2 linked regions of the Homo sapiens genome follow. The protein of the gene in region 1 interacts with the protein of each later gene in a pairwise test. Each region holds a gene or a part of one and is shown on either strand. Other genes may lie near its edges.

The links. Proteins that work in one complex are often made in the same cells at the same time.
Region 2: the proteins of SHTN1 (region 1) and TFCP2 interact in binary tests that used the Homo sapiens proteins (3 or more experiments, as listed by UniProt).

Annotation. Positions count from the first base shown.
Region 1 is NC_000010.11:116,885,314-116,890,508, forward strand, and holds part of SHTN1 (shootin-1), read right to left. Parts: intron 1,254-5,195; coding exon 1,031-1,253; 3' UTR 1-1,030. UniProt on the Homo sapiens protein: Involved in the generation of internal asymmetric signals required for neuronal polarization and neurite outgrowth.
Region 2 is NC_000012.12:51,092,245-51,097,429, reverse strand, and holds the end of TFCP2 (alpha-globin transcription factor CP2), read left to right. Parts: intron 1-1,389; coding exon 1,390-1,441; intron 1,442-2,151; coding exon 2,152-2,189; 3' UTR 2,190-3,774; downstream 3,775-5,185.

The DNA.
Region 1 (5,195 bases):
AACACCAATTTTGAAACAATCAACTTTGAAAAGCTGCATAAGTTTTTTTTTTAATCCCTGATTACATTTCTATTTATTCACTGTGGTAGCCTGAAACATTGTATTTTTAGAGACTAACTACTGCTTAATTTCTTTTTTAAAAAAAACAACAACAAACCTGTGTAATATAGAACAGCAGTGAAGCAAGAAAAATGTGTGCTTGTCACTTATCTTCACCATACTGTACATAAGAACTCTGATAAAATATGGTACTTGTGCCACATTAGTATTTGGGAAAACATAATTAACTCATAGCACAGAGCACATGGTTTACCAACTTACTACTGTAAAATTCAAGGTTTGGACTTTCACCTCAGTTCTGTATTCAGGCTACCAGAGCATCCCCACGGAGGTCCTCGGGAGGCTTTGGACACAATCAATAGCATGTATTTTTCATCCAATAGTTAACAATGTGTGTAATTAACACTGACTATGGGACTACGAGTTTGATGCCAGCTCCTGAGTTTTCAGTTTATCTCAGTCTACTGTAGAAAATAACTTGTATGCCACAGTACCCAACAATTTCCATGCTGCTGCAGTTTCTCCATCAAGAGGATCAGACCCAAAACAGAAGCTTCTTTGGGGGCTTTTAAAATCACATTGGGTTGATCAGTTTTGTTTATCCGATTATATACAAGCACCTCAAACTTTCAGCATTCCATTTGATGAGTGGTATGCACATTTCCTAAAAAGGTATCAACATCTGAATTTTTTTGTAACCTTCTAAAAGAAGTCATACTTAATACAGTAACTAGGAAAAAAACCTCATCTTTATAAAGATCAAAAAACCAAAACCTACTAGGAATGTGTGTTTTGCTAAACAGCTTACTTATGTTTATAGTTGCTACTTACAAAAGTGACACCAGAAAAGAACCTGTATTCTGAATACAGTGACCAGAGCAGAATGTCTACAGCCCTTGCCAATATAACAACACTAATCATGTGCTTATTGAAAAGGACTTCCAAACATGTCAGGCTTCTGGTTTATGGATCAGCAGTTGGAGCTGTCTGTCTCTCTCACGTTTTCAATGCTGTCTTCTTTGTTTTCTGGTTGAATTTCGCCTTCATCCTCCTTGTGTTGAGTTGGATCTTTTTCAGCAACCTGGTCTTTGGTTTGGGGTTCATGTGTAGAAACAGGATCTAAAACTACAACTGGTTCGGCTTGTTTTTCACCGTCAATGTATTTTTTCCTGCATCCAATGCTACTGGGAGGCCTATGAGATGAAGAGTTAGACAAAAAAAGTAAAAAGCAGAGAGAGAAAATAGTTGTCTCTGATATTCTGGATTCAGACTAACATAAAACCCAAAATGTTCTAAGTCTAATCAACATGCATATAGTAGTCTTTGAGATGCCAGCCATTTAAAAGAAAAAATGAAGCTATCAGATTACACAGCTGATACTAGGAGCACAAGGCCAGAAGAAAGAAGGCAGAGAAAGAGCGATTAACTACAGAAGTGTTAAAAAGCCAAATGCACCTACCTGCTTAATTGCATTCTCTTCTCAGGAAGCGTAAAGCTCATGGACAAACTGTGAACTTCTCACAGCCTGCTGCCCAGACCCCCACCCGCCCTCACTTAGCTGGATGGAGCCAGTTAACTCCCTTCCCTCCTGTGTGTCCCTGGGTATGGCTGGTTGCAGGGTAGTGCTGAGGAGCCTGCAGGGACAAGGGGAGTAATCACCCCTCATCACTGATGGACAGGTGAGAGGCATGCTGACTGCTGCCATTACCAACTAGAGGAGACCTGGTCAGACTTCAGGAGGGGGTGGTGGTAGGACCAAGGGCGGAGAGAGAGCCAGAGTAGAAGCTAAAATGCTAAGTTACCATTAATGTTTCTAAAAGGAGAATCAGGTTTCTTGAGAAATTTCTTATGGAATTTCAGAGGCAGTTTTCCACAGACTCCTTCTCTCGTCTCTTCTGCTGCAAGAAGCTATGGCTTCTCAGGCTGAATGGGTGAGGATTTCATTATGGGAACAGATATCTCTGAAACACCCGAAGGTTCAGGCTGCTGAGCTGCGGCCTGAAGGTGGAGGCAGCTGCAGCAGGCAGGGCTGGGGCTTTCGGACTTTTCTGGTCTTTTTGGAAAATGCTAGGATCAGGCCTTTTTGTCCCTGAGAACTGGCTGTTAACCATGACCCGGCACACCACCATCCCACCTCTTGGTGTTCCGCCAGGTGCCAGTGAGCTGCCAGCCAGTGCCTGCCCACTGCTCTACCAGCCCCTCACCAGGAGTTGGTTTCTACTATTCTCTGACCCCTTCAGCAGGTCAGAGCTGGCAGGAGACACTCTTTTACCACCTAATACCTCTCCCTTGTTGGACTTACCACAATTGTTTCCTGTCTGTCTCTTCCAATAGCATGTAAACATCCACGAGGCAGGGACTGTTTAGCTTTACTCACAATTCTATCCCCAGCACCTAGCACAGATGCATTTGTGGACTAAACGAATGGGCAAATACTAATAAACTGAAGGGTTCAGAATGAAGGGGGAGAAATCAAGGTTTGGGTGTGAGTAGGTCTGGATGTCTCTCTTGCAACAAAAACAACAGAACAAATGATCAACTACTGAGCAAAAGTAACCTGCATGACCCGGTCACGGGCACAAAACCTCAAACCCAAAGACCACACTGCTTTTTTCACTTTCTGACCAGTACTGTAAGATCTGTCCAAATGTTTAAAAACCACTCCCTCTGGCTACTGGGTTATATTACCTATGTGTGGCTCGGTCATCATCCTAAGTGACAAACACTATGTCTTCCTTGGAGGTGGTAAAAACAAAAATAATCAGGAGCCTGGGGACAGGCTGTGCTGTAGTGAGGACAGATTCCTTTATTTTTGCCTGATTATGGCACCATGACATTGTCCATCTACCTTGGCCAAGGAACTACTTCTCCAGACATCTGCCGCTATGCTTTGGGAATCAGAATGGGGTGTAGTTTCTCCAGTGGTACCTGTTTTGACTCTCTCTGACCCACACAATATTTAAAAGCCTGTGATGGGAGAAGCAGAACAACTATGAGTAATATTAAGGATTGATCAGAGGAATCAGACCTTAGGGAATGAGAGGCACTAGTCATGCCGTCTGTGTAAATCTGCTGCTTCTGCGTCTGACACTGGGCCTGCAGTCAGCTGTTCTGACAGTTGGGAGGGAAGGCGGCTGTAAAGTGACAGAGACTGGGGACAAACTAGAGCTGCACCTATCTCTCTCTCACAAGCACCAATCTTGATGATGCAAGACAATCTGCAGAATAAGCAGGAGCCTTCCCCAAGGAGCTGCACATGCACCTGCCCCAGGATTTGGAAAAGCTGGAGGAGGAGATGTGGGGAGCTGGAGAAACTGTGGGCCAGTCACTGCCACATGCCAGTTAGGTGAGTCAGCACATCAGGAATGTCATGCACAAGCTATAACAGAGCCTGCCCTACACGGACCTTCCGAGGGTTAAAAAAAATTTTTTTAAGACAACTACTTCACTTCCACCTTCTAAATCTCATGCAGATTTATCTGTCGGCAACTCTAAACTGAAAACAAACAGGTGAGGAGATTCTAGGAAATAAAGCTGCAGCCCAGCTAAGGTTCCAGGGAAAGTCCCATCCAAGTCTGCAGATTGAGTCACCAGTACGAAGGTTTCACCATCTTGGGCCTGGGCCCACTCTTATGTAAGCCAGTCAAACTGCTTTCAGCATGCAAAGGAGGTAGTATTTCTCTCATTCTAGGTGAGCAACTTCCATCAACCCATACTAACCTTCATCACTTCTGTAGAACTACCATGGATGTTTCCATGCTCGTGTGTGTCTGTAGGTGAAGGGGTGGTGCACAGATCCTAGAAAAAGCTTTCTTCATCAGCTCAGGGCTAAAAATTTCCAGGAAGTGCTCTCTGGGCTCCACAGCAGCAATACATGGATGTTGATTGAACTGAAAACTCATAAACCTAGTATTGTCAGGCTGAAATTGTCCTGGAATTGTCTCAGTCCAAAGAACGATCTCCCTGTCCTGAAGCAAGCTTCTTGACTGCAGATTAATCTATTATTAAGTCACTTATAGGCTACAATTTGAGAACCCCTTTGTTATCACTGAACTAGGCGCAGTGGGCATTTTCTGAATCTAGGCATGGAGGGAGAGTGACTGGTTTCTCAAGGATAATGACCACTGCCTTAGAATCCCAGTGGAAGGTGGAAAGGGACTAGGGCAATCGTCTAGTCTGACCTGTCCTTTTACAGATGAGGATGATGGGGCATGAAGAGGGGAAGGAACTGGCCCGAAACCACACAGCTCATCAGTGGCAGAGTCAGAACAAGAGTCAGAAGCTCCTGTCTCCCTGTTTCTGCCTTTTCCATGACAGCATGCTGTTTCTCAAAGGCATCTTCTCCTAGAAACAGGAGGCTACAGGCTAGTTTTTGGCATGTTTACTGATTTCATTCTTTCCGAATCCGTTTCCATCTCCATCTTCCAGATCTGTAAATAAAGTCTATCCCTTCAAGCTATCCCTTAGTTTTAATTTTTCCCCTGTGGTTTGTAGCTCCTCCTGGCTTGACATCACTAGGTCCACTCTTGGCTCCCACGGGCAGCTGCCCAAGACTCCTTCTGGAATGAGAGTCCTTTCTTTCTCCTAGGCCTCATTCTACCTTCATTCCTATCGTATGGGAAGAGCCACAGAGCCGCATCAGTGATGGTGCCAAGAACCCAAGTTCTCACTCTAGTAGTCATGGTGGCAGGTTCTAGAGGGTTAAATATGAAGCTTCTCCCCAAGGTAGAAATCCCAGAAGCTCAAATGCAACACTTCAATGGGAATTGTAATATACTGTCATTCTGTTCAATTTTTTTTTCTACTTTAATGCAACCTCTAAGGACTAAGACCACAATAAGGAATTAAAAGTCTGTACTTCTAAAAAGTGATGGCAGCCTGTCTCCTGCATGCCACAAAATCTGCAAGTAAAACTTAAATTTTACAAGTATCACTTATAAATTAAAACTAAAATCATGGGATGCTTGGGCTGACAGGGATCACCATGGTGAGCTAGTCTAACCTTTTCAGTTGTCAGATGAAGTGTCCAAGGAACAGTGAGGTTAAATCAGCATACAACTTGTTAACAGCAGACACAGGACTAAACTAGTGGAATCCTGATTTCCTGTCCAATAATTTTTTCTTACCACAACATA
Region 2 (5,185 bases), on another chromosome or scaffold:
CTAAAAATACAAAAATTAGCTGGGCATGATGGCAGGTGCCTATAATCCCAGCTACTTGGGAGGCTGAGGCAGAGAACTGCTTGAACCCGAGAGGCAGAGGTTGCGGTGAGCCAAGATTGCGCCACCGCACTCCAGCCTAGGCGACAGAGCGAGACTTCATCCAAAAAAAGAAAAAAAGAAGGCCAGGCACAGTGGCTCACACCTGTAATCCCAGCACTTTGGGAGGCCGAGGCAAGCAGATCACCTGAGGTCAGGAGTTTGACCAACATAGAGAAACCCTGTCTCTACTAAAATACAAAATTAGCCGGGTGTGGTGGCACGTGCCTATAATCCCACCTACTCAGGAGGCTGAGGCAGGAGAATCCCTTGAACCCAGGAGGCGGAGGTTGCGTGAGCCGAGATGGGGGCATTGCGCTCCAGCCTGGGCAACAAGAGCAAAACTCTGTCTCAGAAAAAAAAAAAAAAATTAAGAAAAAATTATTACAGGTATATCTATGAATGAGTTCGATGAAATTGTTTCGTTCCCTACCTGTACCCTTGCACATAATTATTTCCTTTGTAGCTGAATACTGCCTATTGATTGCTAGAATGACACAGGATTTCAGCATCAATTCCATTCTGTTTTTTTCCTCTAGATATAAATGCTGAGGGACTTGATTCCCATAAATTGATAGGAATGGATGGAATTTTGTAATGACAATGTCATTAGATTATACTTCAGAATTATATACCAGAAATTACATAGTGATATTACCAAAAAATCATTTTGAATCCTCTGTCTTACGACAATTTGTGATTAGGTTACTCTTTAATTCTGGTGAAAGGAAAGAGTTAGAAACCATGTGGCTCATAAAAGGGTCTATTGCTCAGTTATTAGCGTTCACCTTCGCCATTCCACTTTGCCACCTGAAGCTTTCACATCATGGGCCACCTTATTAGGATCCTGGGAGGGTGAAACTCATGCCTTTATCTTGGGAGAAGGGAGTTTATCCCTGGGAGAAGGGAGTTTGAGAAGGGAAAGTGGGGAAGGAAAATTAAAGAGGTTTTAGGAAAGAGCACATATGGGAGTTGAAGACACGGAAGTCAGTTCTCCTGTATGCACATATTTGTGTCCGTGTGCTCCTTGGAGAGTCTTGGGGTTAACCCAGGGAAATGCATACCAGGCTTTAAAACAACTCTTCCAATCTGCTTAGTTTTTTAATATTTAAAAACCAAATGGGAGGGGAGGAAAAAACTTTTATGATCCTAGATATTCAAGAAATACATTATTTGTGACCTGTAAAGCCTCCCATATAAATCCCTCTGGATGTGGGGTAGTCCTTAGGGACACAGGAATATAAAGGGGTTGTTTTTCATTTAAATAATCACAAATTTTCTTGCATTTTTCAGATGATACAGAACTTTCAGGAAGAAGCATGTTTTATTCTGGACACAATGAAAGGTAATAGTAAGACAAACATCTTTCTCTAAGCAGTTTAACAGCTTTACTACTACTAGGCAAAGTACATACTTCTTTGAGGAGAGATAGGAAAAGTAACCATATTTGGGTAAAGAAAGTGACAATATTAGAGATTGTTCCTTTTTTTAAGTTGGCTTTTTTTTTTTTTTTTTTTTTTGAAACAGAGTCTCGATCTGTTGCCCAGGCTGGAGTGCAGTGGCATGATCTCGGCTCACTACAACCTTCGCTTCCCAAGTTCAAGTGATTCTCCTCCCTCTGCCTCCCAAGTAGCTGGGATTACAGGCACGTGCCACCATGTCTGGCTAATTTTTGTATTTTTAGTAGAGATGGGTTTCACCTTGTTGGCCAGGCTGGTCTCGAACTCCTGACCTCAAGCGATCCACCCACCTTGGCCTCCCAAAGTGCTGGGATTACAGACATGAGCCACTGTGCCTGGCCCAGCTTTTTGCCATTCTCTTCCATCTTCCATTACAGATGAGGAAATTGAGGCATGTTGTTTTTATAATGCATTTTTTTTGAGACAGAATTTCGCTCTTGTTGCCCAAGCTGGAGTCCAGTGGCGTGATCTCAGCTCACTGCAACCTCCACCTCCCTTTTCTCCCCTTCTCACGAGAATCTTACCATACTTTTTTTCTCCTGCTGTGTTTTAGAGGTGACTAAAGATGATTCTCTCTCTCTCTTTTTTTTAACAGCAGAAACCAATGATAGCTATCATATCATACTGAAGTAGGAGTGCGGCGTTTCGTGCCCAGTGGCTGCTCCTTCCTTCACCTCTGAAAACGGCCCTCTTGAAGGGGGATATGAATGGAGATTTGAAGGTCTGCAAGAACCTGACTCGTCTGACTGTGTGTGGAGGAGTCCAGGCCATGGAGGCAGAATCCTGGCCCTCTGTGTTGGCCCAAGCTCTTGTGGTACACACAGATTACTGCCCAATATGCAGTTCTGCAGCTGTTTTAGTTAAATTTCTGGACCTTGTTGTTGTTAAATATCAGTAGAAACTCTACATAATTTAGAGTGTATGTAGGGCATAATGATGATGGGAATTGTGTGATGTTTAACAGGAAGATCTTAAATTTTGTGATATGGAGCCCTGTAATTTTTTTCTTATATAAAAATGGGTATCTATATTCATAAGACTAGGTCTTCAATCTCTTTGTACTGGTCTCAAATGTACTGGTATCTCTGCTTTTTGCCACAGTTTGTCCCTGAAAACTTTATCAGTGAGGAGAAATACAGAATTTTCCTTTTGGTTCCCCTGTAATACCACAACTAATAGTATTTTCAGCTAACATTTATTGACCAGGCAGTGTGATAAATTTTTTGAATGACCATCTTGTTTAACCCCCTAATCACACTATCTGAAGTAGGTGCTATAGTGACCCCCAACCGAAGATGAGGAAATGGAGACACACAGTGGCTAAGTAGCTTGCTAGGTGCCAGGAGCTGGCAGGCAGTGATGCTGAAATCCAAACCAGGCAATCTGGCCCTCCTTATTCACCCTCTCATACCACCAGTGCTACCCATTATAACCTGTGTTCACTTCGCTTATTACTGTGGCCCTTCTGGTGACTACAACATAACACTGAGTATGAACTGAGGAATTAACCACTGAAAGAGACAAAGCACACCTAAATAATGATGAACAAATCAAGACCTACAAGAAATGAACACATAGATGCTTTTTAAGTGTCATTAGTTATCGGAATCAAAGAATTTGAGGTGGTGACAACTGGGGATTATCTGTAACTCCCCAAATTTACTGTTCTTGAATGACATTCTCAAACTATTTATTAATGAGTTAGTCTCATCCCTGCTTTCTGTTTCCTCTCTCTGCATCTTCTCTTGGCATAGGAAGTTATTTTACTCATGCTATGTTTTTTAATAGAAGCTTTACAAAAAAAGATGCATTCCCTTCCTGTTCACACTCTTACCATGTTTTTGTTCTTCCTTAAGAATGATTGTGTGTGTGTGTGTGTGTGTGTGTAAGTGTGTAAGTGTAACATCATGGGTTTTCTTTCTTCACTTGTAAAGTTTTATCTAGAAATACTTTTACAGGTTATGTTGAGGTACACAAAGATAATGTTCTAAGATTGTGTATTGGATTTGGATTTGTGTGTGTGTGTGTGTGTGTGTGTGTTTAAAGCATTTGATAAGGTTTAAATGTTTTTTATACAGAGATTTTTGTTCATTAAACTCAATCTGCATCATGGTCTAATTTCTCTTGGTTTGAAACAAATTGAAAACTTTGAAACCAAAAAATTAAGTCAATGACTTGTTTAAAACTGACCTGAGCAACTTGTTATATTACACCAAAATGCTTCTTAGTGAATGATTACCAGGTGTCTCCATTTTGAGGAGGAGACGTATCTGGTTGTCTTATATTCCTAGTACTGGTTCTCAACCTCAGTTCTTTCCTCAGCAGGCTGCTATTGGTTTGGATTTTTTTTTTTTTTTTTTTTTTTTTTTTTATGTCTAGGTGTTTGGGTAGGAAAGTTGGACTAGATGCCTTTTTCTTTTTTTTTTTTTTTAATATAGAAATGAGTCTGGGCACCGTGGCTTATGCCTGTAATCCCAACAATTTGGGAGGCTGAGGCAAGCAGATCACTTGAGGCCTGGAGATTAAGACCAGCCTGGCCAACATGGTGAAACCCTGTCTCTACTAAAAATACAAAATTAGCTGGGCGTGGTGGCACACACCTGTAATCCCAGCTACTTGGGAGTCTAAGACATGAGAATTGCTTAAACCTGGGAGGTGGGGTTGCAATGAGTTGAGATCAGGCTGCTGCACTCCAGGCTGGGTGACAGAGCAAGACTGTCTCAAAAAAATTTTTTTTAATAAAATAAAATATAGAAATGAGGTCTCACTGTGTTGCCTGCCAGGTTGGTCTTGAACTCCTGGGCTCAAGTGATCCCCCGTCTCATCTTCCAAAGTGCTGGGAGTACAGGTGTGAGCCACCGTGCCTGGCCAAGACTAGGTGACTTTTTTGTTTTGAGACGGAGTCTCACTCTGTTGCCCAGGCTGGAGTTAAATGGCCTGATCTCAGCTCACTTGCAACCTCTGCCTCCCGGGTTCAAGCAATTCTCCTGCCTCAGCCTCCTGAGTAGCTGGGACTACAGGCACGGACCACCATGCCATGCTAATTTTTCTATTTTTAGTAGAGATGGGGTTTTACTATGTTGGCCAGGCTGGTCTTGAACTCCTGACCTCATGATCCACCCACCTCGGCCTCCCAAAGTGCTGGGATTACAGGTGTGAGCCACCGCACCTGGCCCAAGGCTAGGTGACTTTTAAGGTTTCTTCCAAATCTTTGCATTTGTGACTCTTACTGCAAATGATGCATAAAATTAAATATATAGATGAGGCACAGTGGCTCATGCCTGTAAGCCCAGCACTTTAGGAGGCCAAAATGGGAGGATCACTTTAAGCCAGGTCAGGAGTTCAAGACCAGCCTGGGCAACAAAGTGAGACCCGCCCCCCCATCTCTACAAAAAGTTAAAAAAATTAGCCAGGTATGGCAGTGATTACTTGAGCCTAGGGTTGGAGGCTGCAGTGAGCTGTGATCATGCCACTGCACTGTAGCTTAAGTGACGAAGTAAGACCCCCATCTCAAAGAAAACAAAACAAGAATTATATCTCCCTCTGTCACCCAGGCTGGAGTGCAGTGCCAGTTATAGCTCACTGCAGCCTCAAACTCCCAGGCTCAAGTGATCCTCCTGCCTCAGCCT